7 separate regions of the Homo sapiens genome follow, and all the other regions are reported to be linked to region 2. The links are microRNA targets in miRTarBase. Many come from high-throughput screens and were not tested one by one. Region 2 holds a microRNA gene; each other region holds the end of a gene's coding sequence.

The links. The annotated mature microRNA hsa-miR-3941 reads UUACACACAACUGAGGAUCAUA and lies in region 2 at 2,992-3,013, shown strand. An mRNA with a match to its seed (bases 2 to 7 or 8) in the 3' UTR can be bound and repressed. Matches are read on the target gene's strand: a 7mer-m8 pairs with bases 2 to 8, a 7mer-A1 pairs with bases 2 to 7 and ends in A, and an 8mer does both.
Region 1: the mRNA of ART4 is a reported target of hsa-miR-3941. The part of its 3' UTR that is shown has no 7-base or 8-base seed match.
Region 3: miRTarBase lists CLEC4D as a target of hsa-miR-3941. Seed matches in the 3' UTR shown: 7mer-m8 at 2,937-2,943 and 7mer-m8 at 2,917-2,923.
Region 4: miRTarBase lists LSM14A as a target of hsa-miR-3941. Seed matches in the 3' UTR shown: 7mer-m8 at 2,899-2,905.
Region 5: the mRNA of UGT2B4 is a reported target of hsa-miR-3941. The part of its 3' UTR that is shown has no 7-base or 8-base seed match.
Region 6: miRTarBase lists SYTL4 as a target of hsa-miR-3941. Seed matches in the 3' UTR shown: 7mer-m8 at 1,707-1,713, 7mer-m8 at 1,715-1,721 and 7mer-m8 at 1,741-1,747.
Region 7: the mRNA of TRMT112 is a reported target of hsa-miR-3941. Seed matches in the 3' UTR shown: 7mer-m8 at 554-560.

The regions. Positions count from the first base shown.
Region 1 is chr12:14,826,716-14,829,715 of GRCh38, forward strand. It overlaps ART4 (ADP-ribosyltransferase 4 (inactive) (Dombrock blood group)), which reads right to left. Exons shown (of 3, transcript NM_021071.4): 3 at 1-2,747. The coding sequence ends at 2,656. Among named protein-coding and RNA genes, the nearest start is that of SMCO3, 14 kb to the left of the region's middle.
Region 2 is chr10:122,414,033-122,418,491 of GRCh38, forward strand. It overlaps MIR3941 (microRNA 3941), which reads left to right and starts at 2,933; the gene lies at 2,933-3,035. It overlaps PLEKHA1 (pleckstrin homology domain containing A1), which reads left to right. Exons shown (of 12, transcript NM_001001974.4): 7 at 1,827-1,970; 8 at 3,868-3,936.
Region 3 is chr12:8,519,806-8,524,376 of GRCh38, reverse strand. It overlaps CLEC4D (C-type lectin domain family 4 member D), which reads right to left. Exons shown (of 6, transcript NM_080387.5): 5 at 4,036-4,151; 6 at 2,011-3,253. The coding sequence ends at 3,106. Among named protein-coding and RNA genes, the nearest start is that of CLEC4D, 8.6 kb to the right of the region's middle.
Region 4 is chr19:34,226,158-34,230,728 of GRCh38, reverse strand. LSM14A (LSM14A mRNA processing body assembly factor) reads right to left here. Exons shown (of 10, transcript NM_015578.4): 10 at 1,441-3,364. The coding sequence ends at 3,341. Among named protein-coding and RNA genes, the nearest start is that of GARRE1, 26 kb to the left of the region's middle.
Region 5 is chr4:69,477,429-69,481,999 of GRCh38, forward strand. UGT2B4 (UDP glucuronosyltransferase family 2 member B4) reads right to left here. Exons shown (of 6, transcript NM_021139.3): 6 at 2,737-3,482. The coding sequence ends at 3,206. Among named protein-coding and RNA genes, the nearest start is that of UGT2B4, 16 kb to the right of the region's middle.
Region 6 is chrX:100,673,378-100,677,641 of GRCh38, reverse strand. SYTL4 (synaptotagmin like 4) reads left to right here. Exons shown (of 20, transcript NM_001370165.1): 20 at 1,466-3,151. The coding sequence ends at 1,614. It overlaps SRPX2 (sushi repeat containing protein X-linked 2), which reads right to left. Exons shown (of 11, transcript NM_014467.3): 11 at 1,854-4,264. Among named protein-coding and RNA genes, the nearest start is that of SRPX2, 31 kb to the right of the region's middle.
Region 7 is chr11:64,313,030-64,317,339 of GRCh38, reverse strand. It overlaps TRMT112 (tRNA methyltransferase activator subunit 11-2), which reads left to right. Exons shown (of 4, transcript NM_016404.3): 2 at 1-76; 3 at 193-282; 4 at 372-880. The coding sequence ends at 479. ESRRA (estrogen related receptor alpha) reads right to left here. Exons shown (of 7, transcript NM_004451.5): 3 at 3,273-3,389; 4 at 2,973-3,101; 5 at 2,429-2,599; 6 at 2,070-2,339; 7 at 597-1,633. The coding sequence ends at 1,374. Among named protein-coding and RNA genes, the nearest start is that of TRMT112, 2.4 kb to the left of the region's middle. RefSeq lists an enhancer at 762-1,277.

The sequences.
Region 1 (3,000 bases), not on the chromosome of region 2:
CTGTACATACATCGATCATTCCGTATTCGCTTCTATTTTCTGCTTTCCTCTAAGTAAAACATCATCTCTGATAGAAAGCTTTATCTAACCATAGGCCAGAGGAATCACATTTTTCTCTCAGCTCCAAGCATTTAATATTTGGCCTTGTTTTGGGCACTACGCACTTGGCACATACTCTTTCTTGTTTTTTTCTCCTTCTGCTCACCCCTTCTCCCAGCCTAGAGCCCTAACGGCTGGTTCAAATGCAGCCTCTTACTTAAAGCCTTCCGGGTGTCTCTTCTTGCCTCAGTTGGAAGAAATCTTTCTTTTGAATTGTTATGAACAGAAAACTTGATTTTTGCCTTTTTTTTTTTTGGCATTTCACTTGTGGCTTGCTTTATGTTCTTAATTTCTCCTAAGAGATTGTAAACTCATGAGAGATCTGGCCTAGTGTTCTTAACTTTTAATCCCCAAAGTGCTTTGTACACAGTATGGCTCAATACATGCATTTATATGGCACAGGAAAAATGTACTTAAGATGTTGGGTGGCTTTTACCAACATAGCATGTCATTACTGACTCATCGATGCTCACTGGAAAAGCTTGCTCCCAGAGCCATGTCCCCAGGACTCTCTACTAGGTAGCCACCAAACTGCCAAAGACCCTATCCTATGCAAGTCACATAAATTGTCTGTTTGTAGAAATTCTTTCTTTTTTTCTTTTTTTGAGATCGAGTCTCACTCTGTTGCCCAGGCTGGAGTGCAGTGGTGTGAACTTGGCTCACTGCACTACCTCCGCCTCCTGGGTTTAGGCAATTTTCCTGCCTCAGCCTCCCAAGTAGCTGGGATTACAGGTGCGTGCCACCATGCCTGGCTAATTTTTGTATTTGTAGTAGAGACGGGGTTTCACCATGCTGGCCAGGCTGGTCTTGAACTCCTGACCTCGTGATCCGTCCTCCTCGGCCTCCCAAAGTGCTGGGATTACAGGGGTGAGCCACCATGCCTGGCAGAAATTCTTTCCTTTATTGACTGTAGAGGCTACTGCAACTAGGTGACAGAGGTGATTTGGCCCTGTTAGTTTCAAATCCCAATTTAAAGAATGATAGTACAGAGATGCCTGAACTCCCTGCCAGGTAATTTTATGTAGCTTATTCCCCATTCCATTTCTTTGATCATGACACAGGCCATTCAGGAAGTCCTATGGAGAGTAAATAGATGGACCGATTTTCAGTTTTGCTGTTTCTTATCCAAATCTTAAAAGGGATAAGGAGCATGGACTTTCAAAATCCAAAATTATAGAGCTAGCCCTCATCTTTACTCCATTTAGCCTGATACCAGGGTCTTCAGTGATCGTGATCGGGTTAAATAATCCCTTATGTCGCTACCTAAATTACTACCTGAGGGAAGCGTTAGAGGACATTTCCAGCTATACAATTCAACAATTTATACTTCTTTGCATGTACTAGTTTACATGTAATGAGACCTCGCTATATTGCTGATATTTGTTTGTAATCAGTGTTTTTTTCTCTCATACTCTCTGTTAACCTTCACACATACCCTCATGTTTTCCTAATATTTAAATTTGCTATGAAGACTTAAATTTGCCATCAAGTTCTCTATGAATTAACATATGAGTTTAAATTTTAACTTTTGTAATGTCTTAGGAACATGCATGAACACCCATTACTGCTGGTGAATGAAATTTCACTAACATCTTTCATTAACTTTCCCTTTTATTTCTCAAGTTTCCATGTGTCTTCTCATCTGAGGCCATACTAGCTTAATCTTGAATGCTCATAAAAAATCTCTGAAGAAAATTCACACCTTGGTTAATCTCTGGGGTTCAAAGCTTTTCTGTTTGGTGAAGAATTTGTCCTTTGCTTTCTAATTTAATCTTCTTTGATTTGTTCCTATTTAGAATAACTAAATTAAAAAAAATAAGGAAGAGTGCTTGTATTCGTTGGAACTTCAACTGCTTGATGCTTGACATAGAAAATCTAATTCAAATTATGCAAGCAAAAACATAAATTATTGATTTATGTAATGAAAAATCTTGTAGTATTCAGCTTTAGGCAAAGTTGGATCCAGAGGCTTATACATTCTCATCAGGTCTCAGTTTCTTTTCACTTATCAGCTCTTCCTTTGTTGTGTTAGATCCTTTCTCAAGGAGATGGGGTCTCCTCTCCTGGTGGCGGGATCTTTGCTGGCAGCTATAAGCTCCTACCCTGCTTTCATTAATATCCATTCAGAAAAGAAGCTCCCATTCTATTTCCAATTGCAATTCCACAAAAGTACCCTGATTGTATCTCACAGGCTCTGATTGGATCATTTTCTATTCCAGCATGAATCTTTGTGTCCATGAAGAAGAAATATACTGATTGGCTAAGGCCTGAGTTACAGGCCAATCACAGTCAGTGGGCTGAGCCAGCTCTGCATCAGTTGCTAGCTGGGCAGAGTGATTTCCCCAAGAGTACTTAGGGTGCCCAGATTGAAATAAGGCAAAGGGGTACAAGGAAAGGCATAAGAGAATTAGCAAAGAGGAGGCCATGCACTGGTTTCAGCAGAAGTATGATGGGATCATCCTTCCTGGAAAATAAATGTCCATTTCTAGCCAAAAGGCCAATAAAAAAGATTTTATTTAAATATTTTTTTTAAATAAAAGGAGCCACAAGATTTCTTTATACTCTGCTTTTGGAAAAGATGATGACACTGGTCAAAAAGGAGAGAGATGCAATAGCTATAGGATCAGGGATGCATTTCTTGCTGGAAGCTGTAAAAAACAAAACAAAGGAAATATTTTAGGTAGCAGAGTTTTTTTTAAAACTACCTCATCTATCCATTGATCCACTTACTTAACTTAGAAAATTCCTAATAAAAACATTTGAAGTTAGCTACTTAAAACACATTATTTTAGATTTTTCTAACATAACTTGCTTATTTTGCAGATGATGAAACAGACACCAAGAGGTTAAAAGATGTACTCCCAGGTAACCCAGCCAGCTGGTGGTAGAGATCTAATTTTC
Region 2 (4,459 bases):
AATGAACAGAAATTCCCTGCTGTCATAGAGCATACATTTTCCACCAAAGTTGGATAAAAAAATAAGCTAGGATTGTGTGTTTACTTTTTCCAAAAGTAATGATTTTAAACTGTTAACCTTCTGGTTACTATGTACCTAGATTAAGCTTCTTTCACTGGTATTATGACCTATGTTGACATAAGGGGTAAGACTATTTTCCTGTAGTTGTGTTAAGACACTGTATTAGTTTGTATCTGTGGCTGTTTTAATTTTGTCTAGAGTTAAGATTTTGTTGCATTGTAATTTTGGTATAGATATTTCAGTAGTTTCTAGGATTTTATGGAGGGTATAATTTTATTGCATCATTTATTTTGTAGTATAGTTTTAAAAATTATAAAATAATATATGTCTATCATAAAAGGCAAAAATTGGTAAATTGGACCTCATCAAAATAAAAAATACTTGCTCTATGAAAGACCTTCTTAAGAGGATGAAAAGAAAAGCTACAAACTGGGAGAAAATATTTGCAAACCACATGTCCAACAAAGGACTTTTATCTAGAACATAGAAAGAACTCAGAACCCAACAGTAAAAAGCCCAAGAAATCCAATTAGAAAATTCATGAACAGATATTTCATCAAAAGATAAAAGATAAACAGATGGTAAGTAAGCACATGAAAAGATGTTCACCATCATTAGCTAGCAGGGAAAAAATACAAATTAAGAGCACAATAAAAGATCACTGCACACCTCTCAGAATGGCTGAAATAAAAGTGACGACACAAATGCTGCCAAGGTTGAGGAGAAACATAATCTCTCAGGTGTTGCTGGTGGGAATGAAAATTAGCCACTCTGAAAAACAGTTTAGTGTTTATGTTTTGTTTTTTTTTTAATAATAAAAGTAAGCTTGTGATTACTGTACAACCCAGCATTTGCAGGACTAGGTGTTTATCGTAGAGAAAGGGAAAATTACATTCACATAAAAACTTGTGCATGAATGTTGATAGCAGCTTTTTTCCTAATAGCTAAAAGTGGGAAACAACTCAAATGTCCTTTAATGGGTGAACAGTTAAACAACTGGTCATCCATCCATACCATGGAAATATAGCAATAAAAAGGAATGAACTCTAGATACAAGGAACAGTCTGGACGAATCTCTAGAGAATTATGCTGAGTGAAAAAAGATAATCTCAAAAGATAACCTTCTGTATGCTTCCATTTACATTACATTTTCAAAATGTCAAAATTATAGTCTTGGAGAACAGATTAGTGGCTGCCAGGGGATTTAGGGGTAGGAACTCTAAAGTTCACAAAGGAGCCTTGGGGTGATGACCAATTCTGGGTCTTAAATGTGGTAGTAGTTACACAGATCTACACATGTGATAAAACTGCATAGAACTGTATAGACACACATAGATGAATGTATGTAAAACTGGTGGAATCCGAATAAAGTTTGTGGGTTGTGCCAATGTCCATTTCTTGTTTTTTGATAATGTTACGCCGTTTCCCTTTGAGGGGAAACTAGTGAAAGGGTACATAGGACCTGTTGTACTTTTTTTGGGCAGCTTCTGGTGAATCCTTATAATTATTTCAAAATAAAAAGTTAACTCCTTCCCCAAAAAAGAGCACTGGTGGCAGGACTTGTGCAAAACAAGAGGAATGGAAATTTGTGCTTTAATCAGTGACAGGAAAATTAAGAGTAAGTATCTCAGATTAATTAGAAAACTCTTCAAAAATCTGTTTCTGACTAATCTAAGGTGGATTTTAAGATTTTCTACTGGGATAATATGAAATAAAAGTATGCTAAACAAGCAAGAAAATAATTTATTTATTTTGCTTCATTTTAGAAAGAAGAAGTAAATGAATGTGGTGAAAGTATTGACAGAAATAATCTGAAACGGTCACAAAGCCATCTTCCTTACTTTACTCCTAAACCACCTCAAGATAGTGCGGTTATCAAAGCTGGATATTGTGTAAAACAAGGAGCAGTGGTGAGTAGCTTAACAAAATACATGAAATAATGAAAAAGGATTACGTTCTAGCAAACTCAAATTAACATGGAAATTGTTTGCTTTATTTTATGAAAGACCCAAAGTGAGAGACCGGCATGCTGAGGAGAGTCAGGAGATAAAATAGGGGATATTCTCTGTTTATAATTCAATGCTGTTATTTGCTTGGTTTGCAGGGGGCCAGGAAAGTTAATGCCCATTACCACTGACTTTCAGTTTAAATGAGCTTTCCTAACAGTTTAATGTTTTAGAAAGTGTTTCTATTCATCTTTACTCATACTCAGGAGTGGGTCAGGGAAAGAGAGCTGTTGTGGGGAGATGGCAGGCCAGCGGCAGGAGAAGGAGTGGTGCCTAGGAGGTCTCTTCCTTGTTTAGGCATTGGCCTGACCTCCGTGGTAAGCTCTCTGACCTTGGGCTACTTACTTAACCTCTCAGGCCCTCAGTTTCTGTCTTAAGGAATATCATATAAAACCTACCATCTAGGGTTTTGTTTTGTTTTGTTTTTGTTTTTTAAGAGATGTAAATAAGAAAGGTGTGTTTCCCTTTGCACAGCACCTGGTACTTAGTAAAAGCTGTTATGGGTTAGCCCAGGTATTCCCATATAATCAGTTCCATGATGAATTTTTTGCAAGAGCAAGTAAATTTACCAATATTTCTAAGGTTGCAACATACCTTAGTATCTAAGCCATTCTTTCTATGTGAACTAAATCTTTAGAATTTCATGAGAAAATTAACTTTAAAGTTTGAAAATGTTTTTTAAGTCTGTGAGTAAAGAAATACTTAAAATTATTTTGGTGGTTCTGTTTGACTTCTCATCACTTTTTGGCAACTCTTAATTTTTTTAGGGCAGCCAGGGGAATGTCCTTTCACCTGTTTGACCTGCTTTAGGCTGAGGAAAATGATGGTGAGGGCAGGGGTTTCTTACTGTACAATGTCTGCAGGTAGAGTCAGAATTCTCATCAGGCTGTGATGCTCAGTTGTGTGTAGATTGAAAGCCCTAATTTTACACACAACTGAGGATCATAGCCTGATGGTTCCTTTTTGTTTTACTCTTAAGTCCAAAATACCAGTCAGAGATATTTAAGTGCTTCTGCAAAAACTGTTATTTTATTGACAAAAAATATTTGTACAAAATAGGTTTACTTTATTAAATATTTAGTGCTTTACTACTATGTATAAAGTACTTGTGGAAGAATTCATATGTTTTTACAGATGGAGAAACTTGATGTGGTTTAATAACATTTCCTGTGTTTGCTCTTTACATGGGGTTGGCGGGGGCGAGGAGTAGGAGGAAGGGGAAGTGCTTTTAAAAAAAAAAAAAGTTTCAACATTAAAAATATGAAATAGGCCAGGCATGGTGGCTCACGCCTGTAATCCCAGCATTTTGGGAGGCCAAGGTGGGCGGATCACCTGAGGTCAGGAGTTTGAGACCAGCCTGACTAACATGGTGAAACCCTGTCTCTACTAAAAATACAAAAATTAGCTGGGCATAGTGATGGGAGCCTGTAATCCCAGCTACTCGAGAGGCTGATGCAGGAGAATTGCTTGAACCCAGAAGGCAGAGGCAGTGAGCCGAGATCGCGCCATTGCACTCCAGCCTGGGTGACAGAGCAAGACTCTGTCTCAAAAAAAAAAAAAAAAAACACATAAAATCATACAATAAAAGATGAAAGCCAGGCACCAGAAATTGAATTAGGAATTCAAAGCCTGGGTAGCTAGAGAGGGATGAGGTTTAATTTATCGCATCTCTAAGGGAAGTAATGAGATTTTTCACTGCTTGGCATGTCTGATTGTGGGTTCATATCAGGGTAATTAAGTGGTGACTAACATTTGACATTCTTAGAAACACAAGTCTTATGTCTGTGTTCATCTCTGGTAGATGAAAAACTGGAAGAGAAGATATTTTCAATTGGATGAAAACACAATAGGCTACTTCAAATCTGAACTGGTATGTTGTTACGTCATAAATGTTGCTATAAGAATGTTTGAAAAGTGTTGCAATGTAGTGATTATATATAATTTCTTGTACTGTTCTGTAGTTTCAGAATAAGTCTAGTTTTTAGAGGTAAATATAGTTTATTTGGTTGTGATGCTTTTGGTTAATGATATTTTTCTTAAATACATTTTTAAGTAAAAAGATCCTATCTTCAAAGCAGCATTCCACCTTGAAAGATCTGAAGATCTCAGAATCCTCTAGTCTATAAATTTCCTCTAAAGGGGCTGTCCTCTTGGGGGGTTAGCCCCACGTGGAGTAGGGAGAGAAGGGCATCCACATGGGGAAGGGGTGGTGGCAGAGATGGGAGAATGGTCACATACACAGTGATTTATAAAATCAGGAACTATATTAAGTATAATAGAAGCCAAGTCTTTTCAGAGAAACAATACTTTTTGGTGAATGAATGTATATCTGTATATATGATGAGGAATGAGATATTTACATAGTTTCAAAGTACCTATCTACTAAAATAGGT
Region 3 (4,571 bases), not on the chromosome of region 2:
TGAAATAGAGGCAGCAATTAATAGACTACCAAACAAAAAAAAAAAGCCAAGGACCAGATGGATTTACAGCTGAATTCTACCAGAAATACAAAGAAGAACTGGTACCATTCCTTCTGAAACTATTCCAAACAATTGAAAAGGAGGGACTCCTCCCTAACTCATTTTATGAAGCCAGCATCATCCTGATACCAAAACTGGGAAGAGACACAACCAAAAAAAAAACTTCAGGCCAATATCCCTGATGAACATTGATGCGAAAATCCTCAATAAAATACTGGCAAACTGAATCCAGCAGCACATCAAAAACTTGCCCACCACAATCAAGTCAGCTTCATCCCTGGGATGCAAGGTTGGTTCAACATACGCAAATCAATAAACATAATCCATCACATAAACAGAACCAAAGACAAAAACCACATGGTTATCTCAATAGACGCAGAAAAGGCCTTTGATGAAATTAAACATCCTTTCATGTTAAAAACTCTCAATAAACTAAGTATTGATGGAACGTATCTCAAATAATAAGAGCTATTTATGACGAACGCACAGCCAATATATCATATTGAATGGGCAAAAGCTGGAAGAATTTTCTTTGAAAACTGGTACAAGACAAGGATGTCCTCTCTCACCACTCCTATTCAACATAGTACTGAAAGTTCTGGCCAGGGCAATCAGTCAAGAGAAAGAAATAAAGCATATTCAAATAGTAAGAGAGGAAGTCAAGTTGTCTCTGTTTGCAGACAACATTATTTTATATTTAGAAAACCCCATCATCTCAGCCCAAAAACTTCTTGAACTGATAAGCAACTTCACCAAAGTCTCAGGATACAAAATCAATGTGAAAAAATCGTAAGCATTCCTTTACACCAACAATAGGCAAGCAGAGAGCCAAATTATAAATGAACTCCCATTCACCATTGCTACAATGAGAATAGAATACCTAGGAATACAGCTAACAAGGGATGTGAAGGACCTCTTCAAGGAAAACTACAAACCACTGCTCAAAGAAATAAGACAGGACACAAACAAATGGAAAAACATTCCATCTTCATGGATAGGAAGAATCAATATTGTGAAAATGGTCATACTGCCCAGAGCAATTTATAGATTCAATGCTATTCCCATCAAACTACTGTTGATATTCTTCACAGAATTAGAAAAAACTATTTTAAATTTCATATAGAGTCAAAGAAGAGCTTGTATAGCCAAGACAATCCTAAGCAAAAAGAACAAAGCTGGGGGCATCATGCTACCTGACTTCAAACTATACTATAAGGCTACAGTAACCAAAACAGTATGGTACTGGTCCCAAAACAGACATATAGACCAATGAAGCACAACAGAGACTTCAGCAATAACACCATACATCTACAACCATCTGATATTCAACAAGTCTGGCAAAAACAAGCAATGGGGAAAGGATCTCCTATTCAGTAAATGGTTCTGGGAAAACTGGCTAGCCATATGCAGAAAACTGAAACTGGGCTCTTTCCTTACACCTTATACAAAAATTAACTCAAGATGGATTAAAGACTTAAATGTAAAACCCAAAACCGTAAAAACCCTAGAAGAAAACCTAGGTAATACCATTCAGGACACAGGCATGGGCAAAACTTCATGACTTATTGACAACTGAAGCTCAACCTATATATAGTTCTTTACAAATTAAAAATGGATAATATTAACTATACGAAGCCCACTAGCATTTACATAAAGTTACTTCAACAAGTTTCATAGGTTTCATGCTACATAATTTAGTGAATATGGCAAACACAGTCAAATTTATTTAGCACCATTTCAGCTAAAAGTATCAGCTTTTAACACAGCTACACGCATCCATCACCACCACCACCACCACACAATCAAACACCAGTATTTCAAACCCAAAAAATCAGTAGCTAATTTACAAAATAAATACTGCTTTTAAAAGCAGTAGTAGGAAAGTTAGGTTAAAAAGCTGTTGCTTGGAATTTTTCAGCTTAGATCCAGGAAAAATTAGCAAATTGAAAATTTTAAGAAAGACCACCATATTTTATTAAAGTTGGATGTGACTGCCCTTTGCAATTAATGTTTCATGCACCAGAAAAGCATAATTTCTGGTTGTCAAAACAATAACTTCCTTGCTAGTTCAAACTATAGTTATACAGCTCTAAAGAAACATTAACAATTTGTATAAATGGGTTGAAAATGTGATTATTTTCTATTCAAATTAATAATGCAAACACGAATACAATGTTACTTCAAACAATTAAGAAATTTTATCCAGTCGTTAGCTAAGTAATGAGGTCGAGTAATCCCCAGTAACTTCCTGTGATACCAAAGGGAATGTATGTTATCTCTAATGAAGCACACCTGGGTCTGTCATGAACTAACAATGTGAAGGTGAGCCCTTTGGCTTCTGGGGGATTTTATTTCCTCTGCTGTAGAATTGAAGGACTTTGTTTAAGGTGTCTTACAAAGACTTCTTGCTTTGCAAAAACGTGTTGGGTGGAGTAAGAAGTAAATTTTTAAAGGCATTTGGACTTTTTTTCTATCTGTAGAACAGCATAATTCAGAACTATTCCACACTGTTGTTCTGGAAAAATTTTCCTCATGCAATGTAATTGTAATGACTGACATTAAAAAGTCTGAAAATGAAACATCAAACAATAAAAATGTGGTTTCAAATCTTTAAAGTGCTTGCAATATTTGGGTTAAAAATGATGCACCACTACCAGTTAGAATATCCCATCTTTGAATTTTAAGAGCTAAGAGTCTGAGAAGGGGAAAAATGACAAAGAGATTGCATTATTCACGCTATTCTTCCATACATGCATTCAGTGCACACCAATTGAAAAGTAAACACCTTGAAATACTACTAAGAAAGCAAAGAAAGATTATTCCTTCCATCAAACACCATACAAAAACCACATTATCTACACACACACACACACACATACACACATGTTGTCTCGAATGAATCAAACAAAATAAAAAAGACCATTATGACTAAAAACGCTGTATGAACCAGCATGTTTTCTGTGTTCCAATGACGCACGTACATTCTGCCTTATTCTAATTGGTTTTTCTTTTCTCTTTCCATCACAAGGACCACTTTCTGAGTTTCTAGTTCAATGTTGTTCCAGGTATTTTACAAATCCTACTTGCTTCAAAGTTACAAGGAACATCATTCCAGGCCCATTTATCTTGGTTATAAACAAGAACAACACAGTTTTCTCCCTGAGAGTTGTCGGGTTCATTCTTATGCCAGAATCTGAAAGAACAACAACATAGATAGAGATTTATAGGTATATATAGACAATGTAGATTATAGGTGTAGATTAGATATAGATATATTAGGAGACAATTCAGAGAAATGTCCCTAGTGAACAGTTTAGAACTGCACTAATACTATACTCACTAGACACATGTAGCTACTGAGCACTTGAAATGTGGCTTCTCTGAATTGAAATGTGCTTTAAGTCTTAAGTGCTGTATTTTGAAGACTTAGTGCCAATGAAGAATGTCAAAGACCTCAGTAATAATTTTATAATGATCACATGTTGAAATGATAAGATTTGGATATATTGGGTTAAATACATTATTAATACGTTATTAAAATACATTTCACTTGCTTCTTTTTACTTTCTTAATATAACTAACAAAAAATTTTAAATTGCACATGTGGCTTTGCATTATATTTTTACTAAACGATACTGGCTTCAAGAAAGAAAATGACAAGATTTTGATTCTCTTTCAAAGAAAATTTTTATCGCTTATATTGTTTATTTAAATGTCAAGCCTAAAACAAATTTTATATCACTTCTATGCTATTCATTCTTTCATTATTGACATTGTGCAAATAAGAATACTGAAAATTGCATGCAAATTATAGGACCATTCTGGAACTGGGACATAGCATATGGAGATTACTCAACCTACAGTGGTCTCTCTTAACATTTTTATATCAATGTACTCCACTTCAAAATGAATGTTTCTTGCTACCATCTTCTAACCTTTGCTTATAAATCCCCTTAGCCCACTCAATATACTTACACTCTGCGTGGGTTAAATGGCGTCTGGTCCACCCAACGCCACTGACCTTTGGCATTCTCATCTCTAAGTCCAAGGAAATAGGAAAGCCGTCTATCCAGAAACTGAATAATAAAGTTCTGCATAAAAATGTAAATTTTAATATAGTTGCATGAATCAGGTGATGGCTATGATGTTGGAAAAAGAGGAAATATGTCAACTAGATTACTGGTTAAGCACAAAAGCTCTGGCATCAGATAGATCTGTTTTCAAATCCTGCCTGTAATGTTAGTAAGTGCTTCAATCTTACCAAACCCCCAGTGCTCTTGTCTTCAAAAGGGACAACTCCACTACTTTATAGAGTTACTAGGAAGATTAAGTGAGGTCAGACTTGCAACCCTTTTAGCACAATGCTTAATAAGATTAGATTTTTTAGGAGGTTTTGTTTTTAATATCTTCTTTAATTGCGTGCATATTTCATTAAATTCCATTTTATTCAGAATTACCGAACCTATACATTGTAAACCTATGGAGACAAAATCCTTGAGGAAACTATTAAC
Region 4 (4,571 bases), not on the chromosome of region 2:
ACCCCCTGCTCATCTGTGGAAAAACTGTCTTTGGTGAAACCAGTCCCTGGTGCCAAAAAGGTTGGGTTCTGCTGTACTAGGGAACTTCAGAATCACTCTCTGGGCCTGGGAATCTGTACTTAAAAATGCTCCTTGGTAGATTCTGATCAGAGATTTGTGAAGCACTGACAGAGAACAGGATGAAGCCCTAACTCCTATGTGGTAATGTTTCCACAATGCTGATGTGCTACAGGAAGTAAGTTCCCTTTATTATTAATATTCCCAAGCGGACAATTTCCTAAGTAGTAAATTTTTTTTTTCAAGTTGGCAGGAAATAATTTCCCACTTACTGTCTTTCCATGTGGAGGGACTTTAGCCAGTGTTTCTCAGAGTAGAGGAGCACTACTGCACTTTGGGTTGGACAACTGATTGTGTGGCACAGCACAGGACATTTACCATCCGGGCCCTTACTTTTAAATACCAGTGGTGATCCCCAGTGATTGTGACAACCAAAACACATCCCCTCACATTCCTCAGTACTCACGCACCACTTAATGATGTTTTGGTCAACGATGGACTGGGTATACAATGGTGGTCCCAAAGATTATGATACCGTATTTTTACTATACTTTTTCTGTTTAGATATGTTTTAAATACAGAAATACCACTGTGTTATGACTGCCTACAGTATTCAGTACAGTAACATGCTGTACAGGTTTGTAGCGAGGAGCAACAGGCTACACCATATAGCTTAGGTGTGGAGTAGGCCATACCATCTTCATTTGTGTAGTACACTCTCTGATGTTCACACAATGATGACATTGCTTAACACATTTCTCAGAATGTGTCATGGCCGGGCCTGGTGGCTCATGTCTGTAATCTAGCACTTTGGGAGGCCAAGATGGGAGGATCATTTGAGCCCAGGAGTTAGAGACCAGCCTGGGCAACGAAGTGAGACCTCATTGCTATTTAAAAATAAGAACATGTCGCTATTATTAAGCAACAGATGACTGTGTTCCTAGGATGTCAGGTAACCCCACCGAGAGCCACTGTGCTGCACTGCTGTTCCCGACCTCTTGCCCTACCATCACATGAAGCCCAGCTTTTGGAGCGAACTGTTTTAATAGACAGATTCTGCATCTTCTTCATGCGTCTGCCCACAGGGAGTGTGTTCTGGCTGCTGTTTCCAGCCTGGCCTGTGCCTGGGTGGCTCAATCTCCTCATGTCACGGATCTGATCTCAGAAGTATTTTATTTACACACAGGAGGGGAAGGAAGGGGCTTTTAGCTTTCCCTAAACATCTGCAACAATAACTCAATCTTAGAAATAAAGTAACTGATTTATAGTTATTACAGGGAATACAAACATTATAATTCCGCTCTTCCATTTAAAAGATTCCTTTCATTATGTTCCTACTGAAACAGAATGTTACTATTTAAAGAGAAAGAACTTTGACGAGCATTTTTTATTGAACAGTTTTATTCTGTTTTAGAATAAAAACTTTGCTTTAATATTGTAAGGGGTACTGCAGGTATGCCATGCTGCCAGTTATTGCTGGGGCACAAAACGCCCCAGTCAGTGATTCGGAGGGCTGGGAAAACGCATAAACTCATAATTTCAGAGCAAGTAGAACTAGTATTTACAGTTTTCTTTCTTGAAATTGGCCCGGGACATCTCCAACAGTCTACACATGTATTGCCATGGTACTTGCTCTGATGCTCTGAATGCCTCGGAACTGTGTTCAATATCATGATTTGTGGGTCCTCTAAAAGGTTTTGTTGTTAACATGCAAGCAAACAGCACTGAACAATATTGTCTAAACTATGGCTGCCAAGTACTGGATCTTCATAATGAAACCAAATTACAAAACACTGCCTTGTAGAGCTATACAAAAGATATAAAATGAAAATAAAAAATGTCAACCAGCCTTAAATATTCCAATTCTCCTACAGTGCAGTTTCTATATCTTTATCACTACTGAATGTTTTAAGGAGAAAGTTAAGAAAACAATCAAAATATTAGATAAAAATATTTAAATCTTTGGATCCTTTTATTCCATGGCCTTCATAAAAACACAAAAGTGGCCAGATTTTTCCCACTAGAGCTTAAAATATCAAAAAGATTCACTAGTAATTTATAATTAGCAATGAACTCTATACTGAGTCATCTGTGGGTCATCATAGGCCCAAGGACCAGTGTTGCCGTGTGTTACAGGCTACCAAAATAATTTCTAGCACTCTGAATCCTCTTGAAATATGATGGAATGAGTCAAGGTATCATGACTAAATTCCAGGCATAATAGGAAAAACAGGTTCATTGATGCCTAGTTTTAAAGTCCTACAAAAGGGGGGAAGATTACTTATTTGAAAATACAGCTAAGTACATTCTCATCTGTGATTATTTACATTTGTATACTGAAAATATCGATTATCTGGACAGATCCTGTGATATGCCATTTGCTACAAAATGAAGTTCTTACAATGAGCATGAATAATTAATCCTTTTTAGATAATGAAATAATGTATCAAATCTTCATTTATGTTCCAAACATTAAAAAACAAAATCAAAAATGTTAAGCCTGGAAAACTAAGAAAAAAAGACCCACCCATAAGGCTGCTGCTCAGCACATCAACTTCTGCAAGGACACAGTATGTTTGCTGACTTTAAAATGTTTATTCTTTAAAAAATTAGTTGCTTTTTATACAGCTATACAAAGTTCTTAATGTTTCTTTGGCAATGGAATATAATGGAATTTTACAACTATATAAAAAAGTTACCTTTGCCTAAGAAACAGTATTTACTGTGTGTACATAGTTGACTGACAAAATTCTCTACCATCCAGCACCCTAATTAATTGACGAAATAAGCTACCTCATATTACAGGATTCCCCAAAAGAAAGGAGGAAAAAGACACACACATACACACACACACACACACACACACACACACACACACACAACCTTCTGTGGCTCAAAACACAGTATCACGGCCCTATCTGCAGGCAACTTGCAATTGCCAAATACAATTTAGTGATAAAAAAAAAAAACCTTTCAGTGATGAAAAAATACTTGTTAAGTCCCACTGAAGTACTGCTTTAGTTTAACTATACATAAGAAATTACTTAACCTTCTGCTATTCCAAATATATTTAATGCTCATGTTTTAAGATGAGCCTTCCACCCCCAAAAGTAACTGCATTTTATCTTTGAAATTAAGCGGAAAAACAAACAAAAAACAAAAACCCAGTGCTGGTGACAAATGTACAGCGAATTCACTTCTTCATTCTTTGCAAAGACTGAAATCAATGTTCAGGACCATGAAGAGCTAGAAATTCACCTATTTTCAGAGACTTGTTTGTAGACTATGCAGCAACTTTGTTGTCTTTCTAAAAAAGAAAAAAAAATTTAGCTCATGTTCCAAATTATTGGTGTATTATTTTCTTTTTACTTTGCTCAAGTTTATTTTAAATTATCTTTAAATATACTCCCCCACTTTTACTTTCATAGAAAAACCTGTCTCACTCATTTCCACGAAACTCCTTCTATAACTTCCATACTCAGTAGTACCTCATTGTTGACTGCATCTTCCAGTCAGTAGAGGTTAATGCAGTGGTGAACCCCACCCCAAAATACAGGCATACTTCCTCATCTTTGGTTGTTCTCCCTAATAATTTTTTAAAAGCAGTGATAGGACTTAAACCCTCAACTCAATAGTCAAACTCATCAAATACAACTGTCAACATACTTTGAAACAAGTTTCATAAAATCCCCAAGTCTTTGATGTCTTTACTAAGCAATAAAATACCCAGTCAGTATAACATTTCTCTCCAAAATTTCATGCCAGGAGGAAGCAATGGTTTAAAAATCAATTTTACAAGGATAACTCTTAAATCTGAAATAAGCTCTGAAAAGTAGAAAGCTGACTGGGGAATTTTTAAAAAGTAACCAGTGAGGAAGCAATAAAAATCTCAAGATTTCCAGAGAGACTGACCCTAAACTAAAGGCCTGTACAAAGGGCTGGAGCCAAGGGCTTTTATTTTCCTCTAGACCAGCTGCTACCATATACCTGGTTTTTACTGCTGATTCTCACCCCAACTGTTAGAAACAGACATTTCCTAGGTGAGACTTAACTTCATCTGTGTATACAACACCAAAACATTTGCACCCCGTTATTAAACTGAAATACATATGGTATGGCATAAGTTGACAGCAATGAGCTACAAGATGAACCTGCTGTCCCCCACAAAGCCAACCTTCACACCTCCCAAAGTATTTGTTTTTTTTACCTTTCAGAAAGCAGTACGATCAATCCAGACCTTTTAGGGTCCAAAAGCTGTGGTTTTCTGAAAGGTAAAAAAAAAAAAAAAAAAAAAAAGAGAAAGAGATGGGGACAGGAGAGGGAGAAAGGAGAAAATGAAAGGGGGAGAGGAGAGAGAGCATTATGCTGAGTCATTCAGACACCTTGTTGTCTTTGAACCCCATCTGAGGAAACACAGATGTGATTTTTATCACCCACCATGGTGGCTTAACCTCCCTGACAGCAGCATATAAAACAGGAGCTGGTTACATTATTATTGCTAGTCCTGATTTCCA
Region 5 (4,571 bases), not on the chromosome of region 2:
TTCCTTAGACTGGAGAATACTTGTGTGATAATTAGTAAATAGTAAGGCTTCTTACCAGCAAAGACAACTAAGTTTTTGTCCATCTGGACCACTTTTATCATAAAGTGCTTCCCTGATGTGTATATTAAAGAAGGTTTATGGCTTGATTTAGCTATTTTCCACAAAATTTATAAACTCATTGTATACTTTGTACACTTTTTGTCATCCTAAAAGATTTCATGCTTCTATTTTATATTTAGAGAAGAAATGGATCAAAAGACCCTGTGGAAAAAGAGAAAAATTAGAGATGATTATTTGAAGTATAGTATGTGGAATATAATTATTATTTCAAACTGTCTTCAATAAACACATTGAATTTTACCACCTATCTATTAGGTAACTAAATGATGCAGTGTCTTATTTTAAAAAAATGGACATGTATATGTACATGTATGTTTAGCAAGATTAAAAATACACTTAATCCCTTCATAATGAAATTCCTATATTATTACAACCAAAAATTAAGAACTTAACATTTGTCATTAAAGGTGAAAAATGAGAATAGAACCCACAAGAAATTTAGAATTTTTTTTTGGTTCTGTGAATAAAGATGATGGTATTTTAATGGAAATTACATTGAATTTATAGATTGCTTTTGGTAGTATGGTCTTTTTCACAATATTTATTCAAGCCACAAATGAACACAGGATGTGTTTCCATTTGTTTGCATCATCTATGATTTATTTCAGAAGTGTTTTGTGGTCTTCTTTGTGGAGAACTTTCACCTTCTTGGTTAAGTATATTTGTAAGTATTTATTTTATTATTATTATTATTATTGCAGATGCTTTAATAGGGGTTGAGGTTTTTATTTGATTCTCAGCTTTGATGTCCACATAGCCCAAGTAAGACTAAGCAAAAAAACAAACAACAACAACAAAAAAAACACACATCTGGAAGTGTCACATTACCTGACTTCAAACTATACTACAAGGCTATAGTTAACAAAACAGCATGGTACTGGTATAAAAACAGGCATGTAGACCAATGAAACAGAATAGAGAATTCAGAAATAAAACTAAATACTTATAGCCAACTAGTCTTTGACAAAGCAAACAAAAACATAAAATGGGGAAAGGAAAACCTATTCAACAAATGGTGCTGGGATAATTGGCAAGCCACATGTAGAAGAATGAAATTGGATACTCATCTCTCACCTTATACAAAGATCAACTCAAGATGAATCAAATAATTAAATCTAAGACCTGGAAGTATAAAAATTGTAGAAGATAGCATCATAAAAACTGTTCTAGACATTTGTTTAGGCAAAGACTTCATGACCAAGAACCCAAAAGCAAAGGCAACCAAAACAAAGTTAAATAGATGGAACTCAATTACACTAAACAGCTTCTGAACAGCGAAAGAGATAATCAGCAAAGTAAACAGATAACTCACAGAGTTAGAGAAAATCTTCACAAACTACACATCCCACAAAAGACTAATATCCACAATCTACAAAGTGCTGAAACAAATCAGCAAGACAAAAACAAATAATCCCTCAAAATGTGACTTAAGGACATGAATAGACAATTTACAAAAGAAGATATACAAATGGTGAATGGCCATAGTTTAAAAATCCAAAAATAATAGATGTTGGCATGGTAGTAATAAGGGAACACATTTACACTGCTGGTGGGAATGCAAGCTAGTACAACCACTATGGCAAACAATATGGATATCCCTTAAATAACTAAAAGTAGAACTGCCATTTGATCCAGCAATTCCACTGCTGGACATCTATCTAGAGGAAAATAAGTCATTATATGAAAAAGACCCATATACACACATGTTTATAGCAGCACAATTCACAATTGCAAAACTGTGGAACCAGCCTAGATTCCCATCAGTCAATGGGTGGATAAAGAAAATGTGAGATATATATATATATATATGTGTGTGTGTGTGTGTGTGTGTGTGTGTGTGTTTGTATACACATACATATATAATTATATATATATACACATACATATATAATTATATATATCTAATATATATTATATATAAATATCACATTTACTTTAGCCACTAGTTGGGGAATATATATATATACACACACATATATTATATATATATATATACACTACTCAGCCATCAAAATGGACAAAATAAACCTGGATGGAGTTGGAGACCATTATTCTAAGTGAAGTAATTCAGAAATATAAAACCAAACAATGTATGTTCTCACTTATAAGGGGGACCTAAGCTATTAGGACATAGAGGCATAAGAATGATATAATGGACTCTTGGAACTCAGAGGGAAGGGTAGGAGGGATGTGAGGGATAAAACAGTACACACTGGGTACAGTGTATACTTCTTGAGTAATGAGTGCACCAAAATCTGAAAAATCACCACTAAAGAGCTTATCCATGTAACCAAAAACCAGTTGTCACCCAAAAGCTATTGAAATACCTAAAAAACAAAGAATAAAAAAAGATGAATATTTTCAAATGAACAGAAAAATAGAATTGGCTCAAAAAACCAAACGCATTGTAAAATTAGTTCATTTTGTAGTAGAAACCAGGTAGGAGTTGCTATATTTCTAATTCCACATACTTTTCACTGGGAAATGACTTAAGCTCTAAAATGGTAAGCATTTTTATCATACCTTTTAGGAAAAAAAATGACGTTGAAGCACGATGCACAATAAAAGCCAAGCAGCACTAATCATCTCAAAATATCAAGAGGAAGAGACTTTCTATACAATTTAATTATTTATTAGCTTCCTCAACAACAGTTAAAACAACACAATCCTGCATGAAATGGATCCAAAGTATGCTGAGTATTTGCAAAACAGTACTGATACTGTCAGTGGACTTCTTAATGTTCTTGTTTCCATGTACAATGTGTGACATGTAGTTAAGCTTAGTAAATTTTTTTTCATGTAACCTGTGAATTGGAACAATAAATTTCAATATAAGCTCAATACATTTCAATATAACCTCATATGGCTTTATATCATTTTTGTTTTCCCTAATGTTTTCCTCCTTGACATGAAATATTTCTAATGGTTAAACAGGTACTAAAACAAATTTTGACTTGACAAGGTAAGTTTTGAAAGATGTTTTGTCACAAGAAGAAAGGAATCTCTTGTATCACAACGTCTTCTTGTTGTAATAAACTAAAGGAGTTCATTTATTGGGTTTCCCAGCTTCCAGCCTCAGACGTAATTAATCTCTTTTCCCCTTCTTTCCTGTTCTAACAAACTTCCAGACACAAAACAGACATTTTGTGATGATGAATATCACAGTTGCCACACAGGCCAGCAGGAACCCAGTCACATCCAAAGAGTGGTACTGGAACCAGGTGAGGTCGTGGGCTGCAACCCGAAGGTGCTTGGCTCCTTTATGGCGCATGACAAATTCAATCCAGAAGACTGCTCGATCAAGGGGCTTCACTGGTTGATCATGATGAATTCTTGATAATTTCATAGCATTCTCTTTATATCTAAACGATAAGCAGAAAAGTATCAACATTGAAAGTAAGTTAATTTGGCCAGGCACGGAGGCTCACACCTGCAATCCCAGCAGTTTCCGAGGTCGAGGCGGGCGGATCACGAGGTCAGGAGATCAAGACCATCCTGGCTAACACGGTGAAACCCCGTCACCCCGTCTCCAGTAAAAATATGAAAAAAAAAAAAAAAAAAAAAAAAAAGATTACCCAGGCGTGGTGGCATGTGCCTGTAGTCCCAGCTACTTGAGAGGCTGAGGCAGGAGAATCGCTTGAACCCAAGAGGCGGAAGTTGCAGTGAGCCACAATCACACCACTGCACTCCAGCCTGGTGACAGAGTGAGACTTCCCTCTCAAAAAAAGAGAAGGTAAGTTAATTTGCCTGAGCACATCAAGTCCACGAAAGGTTTTTAAAGTGCCAGATCATTCAAAGTAAATGTCATAGAATTGACATAGAATGTGTGTATTTTAATTTGAGTCATCATAGAAAGTTTGGCTTTTAAATTGGAATTTCATAATTGACAAATATTTTTAAAGTAACAATGGAGGGTCAGGTGAGAAAGTTAATTATTTGAGGCAGAGAACATATGAGCAATTTTATTTTCTTTTAATTTTTAGTTTTTGTGGTTACATAGTAGGGGTATTTTTCTATGAGGTGCATGAGATGTTTTGATACAGGCTGCAGTGTGAAATAATCACATCATGAAGAAAGGCTACCCATTGCTTAAGCATTTATCTTTGTGTTATGAAATATCCAGTTACACTCCTTTAGTTCTCCAGCAGGCGTATAAAATCATGGTCAGCATCATGAGCCGTTTTAAGTGGTAAAAGATATACACCTTAAAATACAATTTGAGAATTATCATCTTTAAGTTTCTAAAGAGGAATTGTGTCATGTGGGTGAAATGCCTCATAGCCACATGCTCTGCTTCTATTCTACTCTTTGTGTCCTACTGTTTCCCACGCAGTAGCCAGAATGATTATTTTTGAAATAAAAGTCAGATTGTGATACTCCCCTGATTAAGACTTTTGCCTGACTTTTCATCATATCAAGAATAAAATCCAACTCTGTTATTTGGTCCTCAG
Region 6 (4,264 bases), not on the chromosome of region 2:
CCCCTTCTCAGTTTTCTTTGTAGGTGCTGCATTCTATACCCAAACTCTAAATGTTGGTGCTTGGCAGAGCTTAGTCTCGGATCCTCTTCTTTGCCCTCTCCCTAGTCTCTGCACTTGTCTATTAATATACTTATATATTAATAATCACACAGAATATTTAACATGAAGCATATAGACTGATGTTTTTACACATGTAAGCCAATTCATGTCAGTCCCCTGTTAAAACCCCTCAGTGGCTTTCTGTTGTGCTTAGAAAACAATCCAAAGTTCTTAACATGCCTACAGGCCCCTGTGTAACCTGGGTCCTCTGTTCCTTTCTGATCCGTCTTGTATCACTCTTCCCCTTGCTCACTATGCTTCAACCAAAATGACTTTCTGCTCTCCAAATATACCAAGCTCATTCCCACTTCAGAACCTTTGCAATTATTGTTTTCTCTGAATGGAAAGTCTGGTTCTTTCTTATCCTTCAGGTCTTGGCTCAAATGTCACCTTCTCAGAGAGTCCTCAGACCACTCCATCTGCACAGTAGTTCCTGAGTCAGTCACTATACATCACCCTGTTTATTTACATCATAATGTTAACCTCACTGTCTGAAATACTCTTATTGGTTTGCTTGTATATTTTCTGTCTTCCCTATTCAAATGAAAGTTGCCTGAGGACAGAGACTTTTTCTGCTTTGTTTACTAGTGTCTCTAGAGCCTAGAAGAGTACCTGGCACACAGTAGGCACTCAATAAATGTTTGCTGAATTAATGGATGAATATATAAGAGAATATGAATGGGGCCACATACGATCCTCACTTCTGACCTGGAGTCTGCAGCTAGAGGAGAGGTGTTTAGCTTTAAAAGAAAAAAGTTGGCCGGGCACGGTGGCTCACACCTGTAATCCCAGCACTTTGGGAGGCTGAGGCAGGCAGATCACGAGGTCAAGAGATCGAGACCATCCTAGCCAACATGGTGAAACCCCGTCTCTACTAAAAATACAAAAAAATTAGCTGGGCGTGGTGGCGCAGGCCTGTAGTCCCAGGTACTCTGGAGGCTGAGGCGGGAGAATCGCTTGAACCCAGGAAGCAGAAGTTGCAGTGAGCCAAGATTGTGCCACTGCACTCCAGCCTGGCGACAGAGCGAGGCTCCGTCTCAAATTAATAATAATAATAAAAGAAAAATGTTTAAGTACAGTTGGCAATAGCTCTGGCATGAGTTGTCAGGCACTAGAACTCTGTAACAGCCTCAGAATAAGAAGTCTCTAGTGACTGTGTGCCATTTGGAGTCTGATTTCATCAACCCAGAGTCTCTTGACAGAGTCTCAGGAATACAGGTGAGGGAGCACTTCCCAGACTGCTGTGGCCATTAGCCCATCTTCGTAGGAAACTGTTATGGGGTGGCTAATCTTGCTGTACAACCCATCTTCCCTGGTGGGCTGAGAGTGGGGCCCCTCTTTAGCCTCTTCTGGTGTTTCTCCTCAGGGATCAGTAATGGGGAAGTGGTGGACTGGATGGACTCGACTGGGGAAGAAGTGAGCCTGTGGCAGAAGATGCGACAGTACCCAGGGTCTTGGGCAGAAGGGACTCTGCAGCTCCGTTCCTCAATGGCCAAGCAGAAGCTGGGTTTATGAGTCCCTGTCCTCTTCTGCAGGTCCAGCCCTGGCGAGGGCAGGTCAGAGGAAGTGAAGAAATCAAGAGCAAAGATTTATAATTTAATGTGTATGTGTGTATGTGTGTATGTGTGTGTGTGTGTGTGTGTGTGTATGTGTACAAACATGTATTTTCTGCAAATCTCATTATGCTGGCTAGAGTGATGCAGACTTGTTCTTCTTTTTAAAGCAGTCTCAAGAATAAGCATTTCTTTAAAATGTTTCTGTGTATAATCTAGTTTATTTTCAGAGTCCATTTTTTCTTATGTCTTTATAAGGTTCACTTAACTTAAAAACAGCTTTTAAAACAACTTTTTATCTTCTGTCTTGCTATCATTGTTCCTACTTCCCTAGGAAGCCCTGGCTACCTTTCGCATTAGGACCAGTCTGGGTTTTAAGGCTCTGGGAAGCAGGGTTGGTTAGTAAAGACAGGAATGTTGGGGAGAGGTGAGTAGTTCCTTCCTCTTTCTCCTCTCCAATTTATGCTTTTAACTTATTTTCTACCTGGATAAACTTCTGGAACTTGGCTTTTAAATTTAACTTTTCTAGTTTTTAAGCAGTTTCCACCTTGCTTTGGTCTAATGCTTTTCTTTGAAATGCTAACAGAATTCCCAAGCTTTTTCCAGTTCTAGATATCTTTACTAGACCTTTGGGGGACTCTTATAATGGAGCTGCTTTTGAAAAGCACTTTAATTAGATAATGTATTTTGACTAAATCACGAGGATGCCCAGTGAGAGCTTCTAGCTGATCTCAGAGGACCAGAGTGACTGAGGGTAAAGTGTCTCACAGCCCATGCTGAATTTTCTGCATTTTAAACTGATACTGCAGTCATTGGAGAGAGAGCTCCTCATTTCTCGAATGAAAGATGAGATATATTCATCCTCATGTACCACATCTGTCTTAGTGTTTGCGTCTGGGGTGTGTTATCAAACAGAGCATGGTCTACATCCCACTGTGTCAACCAGAAGAGCCAAGTGTTATCTCAATTGGCCCAGTGTTTCTCCAGGCTGGGGACTGTTAAGGGCTCTAAGGGAATGTAGACAGAGTCTCCCTGTTATTCTGACTTCCTGCTTGATGAGCTTTCAGTTCCTGTTTTTGCTATTGTTTCCTAAATTTGACCTACATATTACATGGGTGTAGTGTGTTGAGGCTTTTCAAAGAAGGGTCTAGTGAGCTAAGTTTCATCTTCTGGTACTCATTGATCAAACTGACCTTTCTATTCTCATAAGCGTTTCTACCCAAAGTTGTGTGTGGAAGGAGTGTATAGCAGAGAGGAAATCCCTTTCAACAGAGTCAGCTGCTAACTGATTTCCTATAAGCACACTGGATTAAGGGCAGCCACAGTGGTTTCTACTGTATGTATGAACCGAATGGAGGAATGTTTTCAAAGATTGATTTGGTGTGGATTGCAATTGTAATGGAAGGCATAACTTGGGATCCCGGGCTGTAACTTGCTCTTTTGTTTCCCACCCCCCTGACATGTATGTGTGCTTTAATAAAGCTTTCTCACTTGTCAAACGTTTGTGTTTGTTAGTTCTATAAATGCTTTTGTCTCTGATGTCCTCACTGTTGCTTTTCCCCTGGCTTGAAGGATAAGAACCAAAGTGATAAATGCTCTTCCCTAACCATCCTATGCTGATTGAAGAAAATTCACCTTTCCCCGCATTGCTGCCTGATACCTTAAATGCCTGATACTTTCGCTGAGCTTGATCCCTCGTCCTTTGTATTTGGTATCTAAGGAGAACACTGAGAAATCATCTTTAAAGTGGCACCACTTTTCTATCTTGTAACAAAGGAACTCTTCCTTTAGCTTTGCAGACCCTCCTATACTGGAGGAAGGAGAGAGATGTTCATACAGGAGGTGAGGGGAGACATTCCCTGCTATAAGCACTTCTTTCTGGATCCTTCAATTTCTCTGGGAGGCGGGGACTTTTTCTTTTACTCCTCCTACCATTATGTAGTTTTGAGAGAGAAATAACACAGGTGCCAAGTAACCCAGCTCAGAAATAAGGCTCTTGATTTCTAGGTAGAACCCAAGCAATTCTTGACCTCTTGTGCAAAAGGGCATTAATATATATCAAATGCTTTTTATGTGCAAGGCTTCATATACTATTTCTTTAATTTCTCCAACCACTTTATGAAGTAGGAAATCTTCCCTTTTTACAGATGAGGAAACTCAAGCCTACTGTCACGTGACAGAGTTGGGCTTTGAATCAAAGTCTGACTCTACTGCACCATGTGGCCTCCTGTGAGAATGGTATGTGTGTTATGGGTGAAGGGTCAAAGGAAGACGTGACTCATCTCTTCTAAAATATCTTAAATAAGTTCAATTTACAAAAAGTAGGACAATCAGAATGCTTTGGATATTACCTAGCCAACTTAGTGACTGTACTGCTTGTGAGTGAGTGTGTGTGTATGTGAGAGAGAGAGAGACAGAGAAATAGGGGAGAGGAATAGGCAGGATAAGAGAGAATGGGGCAGTGGGGAGAAGTGGGGGAGAGGTGGGCAGAGAGAGAGGTACAATATATACAGGGGTCGGGCTAGCCCCTTTGGGTCTGGCTGTGGGTCATATTCTGCTGCTGTCTCTCCCCTACTTTAGGAGTTGGGATTTCTCAAATCCTCATCTTCAAA
Region 7 (4,310 bases), not on the chromosome of region 2:
GGAATTCAACCCCAACTTCGTGGCGCGTATGATACCTAAAGTGGAGTGGTCGGCGTTCCTGGAGGCGGCCGATAACGTGAGGATCCTTACCCCGCCCCAGCATATCCCGGGGAATGCGGGGCGGGCACACCTCAGCCGGGCTGAGGCGGGAGTTCGGGATGCCCGGAGATAATTTTGGCCTCTTGCCCACAGTTGCGTCTGATCCAGGTGCCGAAAGGGCCGGTTGAGGGATATGAGGAGAATGAGGAGTTTCTGAGGACCATGCACCACCTGCTGCTGGAGGTGAGAAGCGGCCCATCACTTGCTTCCCGGGCCACCTGCCTCCCGCACTGAGGCTGCCAGTGCTCAGCTCTGTCCCTCCCTGCCCGCAGGTGGAAGTGATAGAGGGCACCCTGCAGTGCCCGGAATCTGGACGTATGTTCCCCATCAGCCGCGGGATCCCCAACATGCTGCTGAGTGAAGAGGAAACTGAGAGTTGATTGTGCCAGGCGCCAGTTTTTCTTGTTATGACTGTGTATTTTTGTTGATCTATACCCTGTTTCCGAATTCTGCCGTGTGTATCCCCAACCCTTGACCCAATGACACCAAACACAGTGTTTTTGAGCTCGGTATTATATATTTTTTTCTCATTAAAGGTTTAAAACCAAAAGCGGTTTCTCTTTGCAGCAAATATACATTAAAATAGAGTCTCTGTACAGCCAAGGGCTCTGGGCCCTGGCTTGCCCCATGTCCCTGCGCCTCCCTGGCCAAACCCAAAAATAAATATAGTGTTATTGCTCTGCAGGGCATAGAGGCAGTGCTCTCCTACCCCCTGAGGAGGCTCGTTGGGAGCTGATGGGGAAGCCCTGGCCACCCCAGGGGTCCAGGGGCTGGAGTCTGCTTGGAGTTATTGCTTCAAGGGGGGACACTAATGCCCAATGCAAATGATGAGAGGAGGAGCGAAGGGGGCATGGGCCTTTGCTCTCCAAGTCCCACTCTGCTTTGAAGAGGGGGTAGGATTAAGCAGCAGCAAAAGCATCACCCACTGGGAGACTCTGGCCTCCATCCCCTTCCCTCCCTGAGATAGGTTTCTGCCTCCCACGCATCCCGTGCAGCCCCCTATGGCTTCCGCAAGGCCCCCTACACTCTGGGGGCACGTTATGGCTTGCAAGGGGCAGCACTGTGCCCAGAGCCTGGACACACGTTCCCAGCTTCTGACACCCCCTAGGAGGGGGAGGAGAGGGCGTGGGGCCTGTTCCCAGGGGCTGATGGCATTGCCCTGGCCCTGCCAGCAGGCTGTGGCACTGCCCAGACCCCAGCTCCGCCCCAGCCCTTGGGGCTGACCCCATGCTAGGCAGGTCCTGCCAGAACCCCCACCAGTCCCACCCCTTGCCTCAGTCCATCATGGCCTCGAGCATCTCCAAGAACAGCTTGTGCATGGGCACCTTGCCCTCCAGCTTCACCCCATAGAAATGGGCCAGCACTTTGCCCGCTGTCTGGCGGAGGAGCGGTAGCGTGAGCAGCAGCCTGCCCGCCCGCCGCCGCTCAGCACCCCCTCCGGGGCCAGCCCGGCCGGCTTCATACTCCAGCAGGGCCTCGTGCAGAGCTTCTCGCAGCTGCTCCACAGCCTCGGCATCTTCGATGTGCACAGAGTCTGCAAGAAGAGAGGAATGTGGTGTTGGCCTGGGCTATCTCTGGCAAGGGCACTCCCCGTATCTTGAGCACTGCTGGATGGGGCCTAAGGAAGAGCCAAACGAGGATTTGTTGATTGGCTGACTGAGAGGCACCACTCATTGCTGCGGCTCGTGGGCCAGGACCCCACCCTCTCTCCCTCAACTGTGGCCACCTTGTACCCTCCCCACCTTCCCTCCCACTAAATGACCTTTCTGCATTAGTGTGGCACTAGGGCTCAAAATCCTGTGTGCAGTTTGGAGCCTGCACTTGGCTTGCTTTTTGACTTCTAGCAAGTCATTGTTCTTCCCTAAGCCTCAGTTTTCGTTATCTGCAAAATGGGGCTGTGCTACCGTCACTGAGTTAACCTGAAGACCTTACGGAGACACCTCACCTGTCAGTGCCTGCCCCAGACTCACCTGAATTGGCAAGGGCCAAGGCCTTTAGTAGAACATACTCCTCTCGCTCCAGCCGCAGGGCCTGCAGCCGCCGCACTAGTTGCAGCAGGGCAGCCCCCAGTTCCCCCAGGCCAGCTGCCCGTGCCCCCTCTTCATCCAGGACTAAGTCCTCAGCGAAGGCCAGCTCATCCTGCAGTGGCAGTGAGCGCTGGGCCACACCCAGCACCAGCACCTCCATCCACACGCTCTGCAGTACTGACATCTGGTCAGACAGCGACAGCGATGAGAAGCCTAGGGGGCAGCGGGGAGCGGGCCTGGCTGAGCAAGCGCACCAGAGCCGGGCCCGTTCAGGGCAGCCCCGGGTCACCTGGGCCCTTTACCTGGGATGCTCTTGGCCCAGCTGATGGTGACCACAATCTCTCGGTCAAAGAGGTCACAGAGGGTAGCCACGGCTGGGAGGTGCCCATCAGGGCCTGCGGGGTCAGGCATGGCATAGAGCTTCTCAGGCTCAACCACCAGCAGATGAGACACCAGTGCATTCACTGGGGCTGCTGTGACAATTAGAGGACAAGAGTCAGGAGCACTCGAATCTGTCAGGCCTCAGGGGTCAAGCATCTTCCCACAGTGGCTCCCCCTGTGGCCTTCCTCAGTAGCAGCTGTCCAGTGACTTCCCTCCAGGGAAGAGCGCTAACTGTCTCCCAGGGAAAGCCCGTGTGTTTGTGGACAGGCTGTGAGTGTTGGAAAATCGTCCCTGTTCCCAGTTCTACTACTTTTCCTGATGCAGGAAAAGGCAGTTTCACATGTCTTGGGGAAATGAGTGAGTGAAGAGACGAAGGGGAAATACAGGTCCCAGTGCCCAAGGTAACTATGATGCCACACATAGGCCTCCGGTTTCGTAGCCCCAGGTACCCACAGTGCTCTCACCTGTCTTCCGGGGGCCTCCAGCGACTGCCAGGGGCCCAGCAGGGAAGGGGCCCGGGAAGGGCAGTGGGTCCACCTCCGGCCGCCGCTTGTACTTCTGCCGCCCACCCCGGACGCGGTCCAGGCGCACTCCTTGAATTGTGGGACAGATAGGACTGTGACTGTGGTGCTGTGGGCAGGGTGGGGCTTGCTCTCCAGAGCTGTCCTCCCCGAGTCCACTCACCAGAACTCCCAGGCCTCACCCCCACCTGGCCCGGGTCCCCGACTCCCCCAGCCCTCGCCCAGCCCCTGCCCAGCGCTCACCCTCCTTGAGCATGCCCACCCGCAGGCACTTGGTGAAGCGGCAGGCCTGGCAGGCCTTGCGTCTCCGCTTGGTGATCTCACACTCGTTGGAGGCCGGACAGCTGTACTCGATGCTCCCTGCCAGGAAGAGGCAGGGCTCCAGTGGCGGCCTCCCGGGGCTGGGAGGGGACCCAGCTGACAGGAGAGCCCTGACTCTCCCCGGGCAAGCACAGGTCTGGGGGTATGGGGAGGAAAGGGAGAGCAGGGGGCCATGAGCAGGCAGGGAGGGGAGTGGCTGCTGGGCGGGGGAGCCCTGCCTGGATGAGGGAGGAGCTGGACCAGGCAGCGGGGCTGCATCTCAGCCCCAAGCCTCATCTCTGGACCACACTGCCCTCATCTGCCGACATCAAGGGCCACAAGGACCTCTGCATTGCTAAATCCAGTGGTCAATTCTTAGTCCTCATGTTACTTGGCCTAAAAGGAGGATCTAAGGCTGTTGATCACTTCCTGCTCCTAGAAACACTGAAACACTTTCTTCTTTTGCTTCTAGGACAGCATACACTCTGGTTTTCCTCCCACCGCACCAGCCACTTTGTGGTTTCTGAGCATCTTCCCAAGCTCTTCCATCCAGACTGCCAGGGCTGTCCTTGGAGCTCATCTCCAATCCCATGGCAATCTTCCCCAGCCGTGGGGCTCTCACGTTTCTACCTCTAGCCTGGACTTGCTGTGAGCTCCAGACCCATCTCTCCAGCTGCCTCCTTGACATCCTGCATGTCTAGAAGGCATCTCGGACCGAACACAGCCTACGTGGACTCCACGTGTTCACTTGCCCAAGAAGAAACCTAGGCAGAATCTCTGGTTCCTCTCACACCCCACATCCAAGCCACCGACACATTCTGGTGGGCTTTACCTCCTCCAAGGTCCAGAATCCGCCTCCTGCCCCTGGCAACTACTTCCACCCTTGACCTGATAGTCACTGTCACCTCGCCCCTCGCTTGGCTGTCCCTGCTTGCTCCAGTCTGTTCTCGACTCAGCAGCCAAGAGGGTCCTATTAAGCCT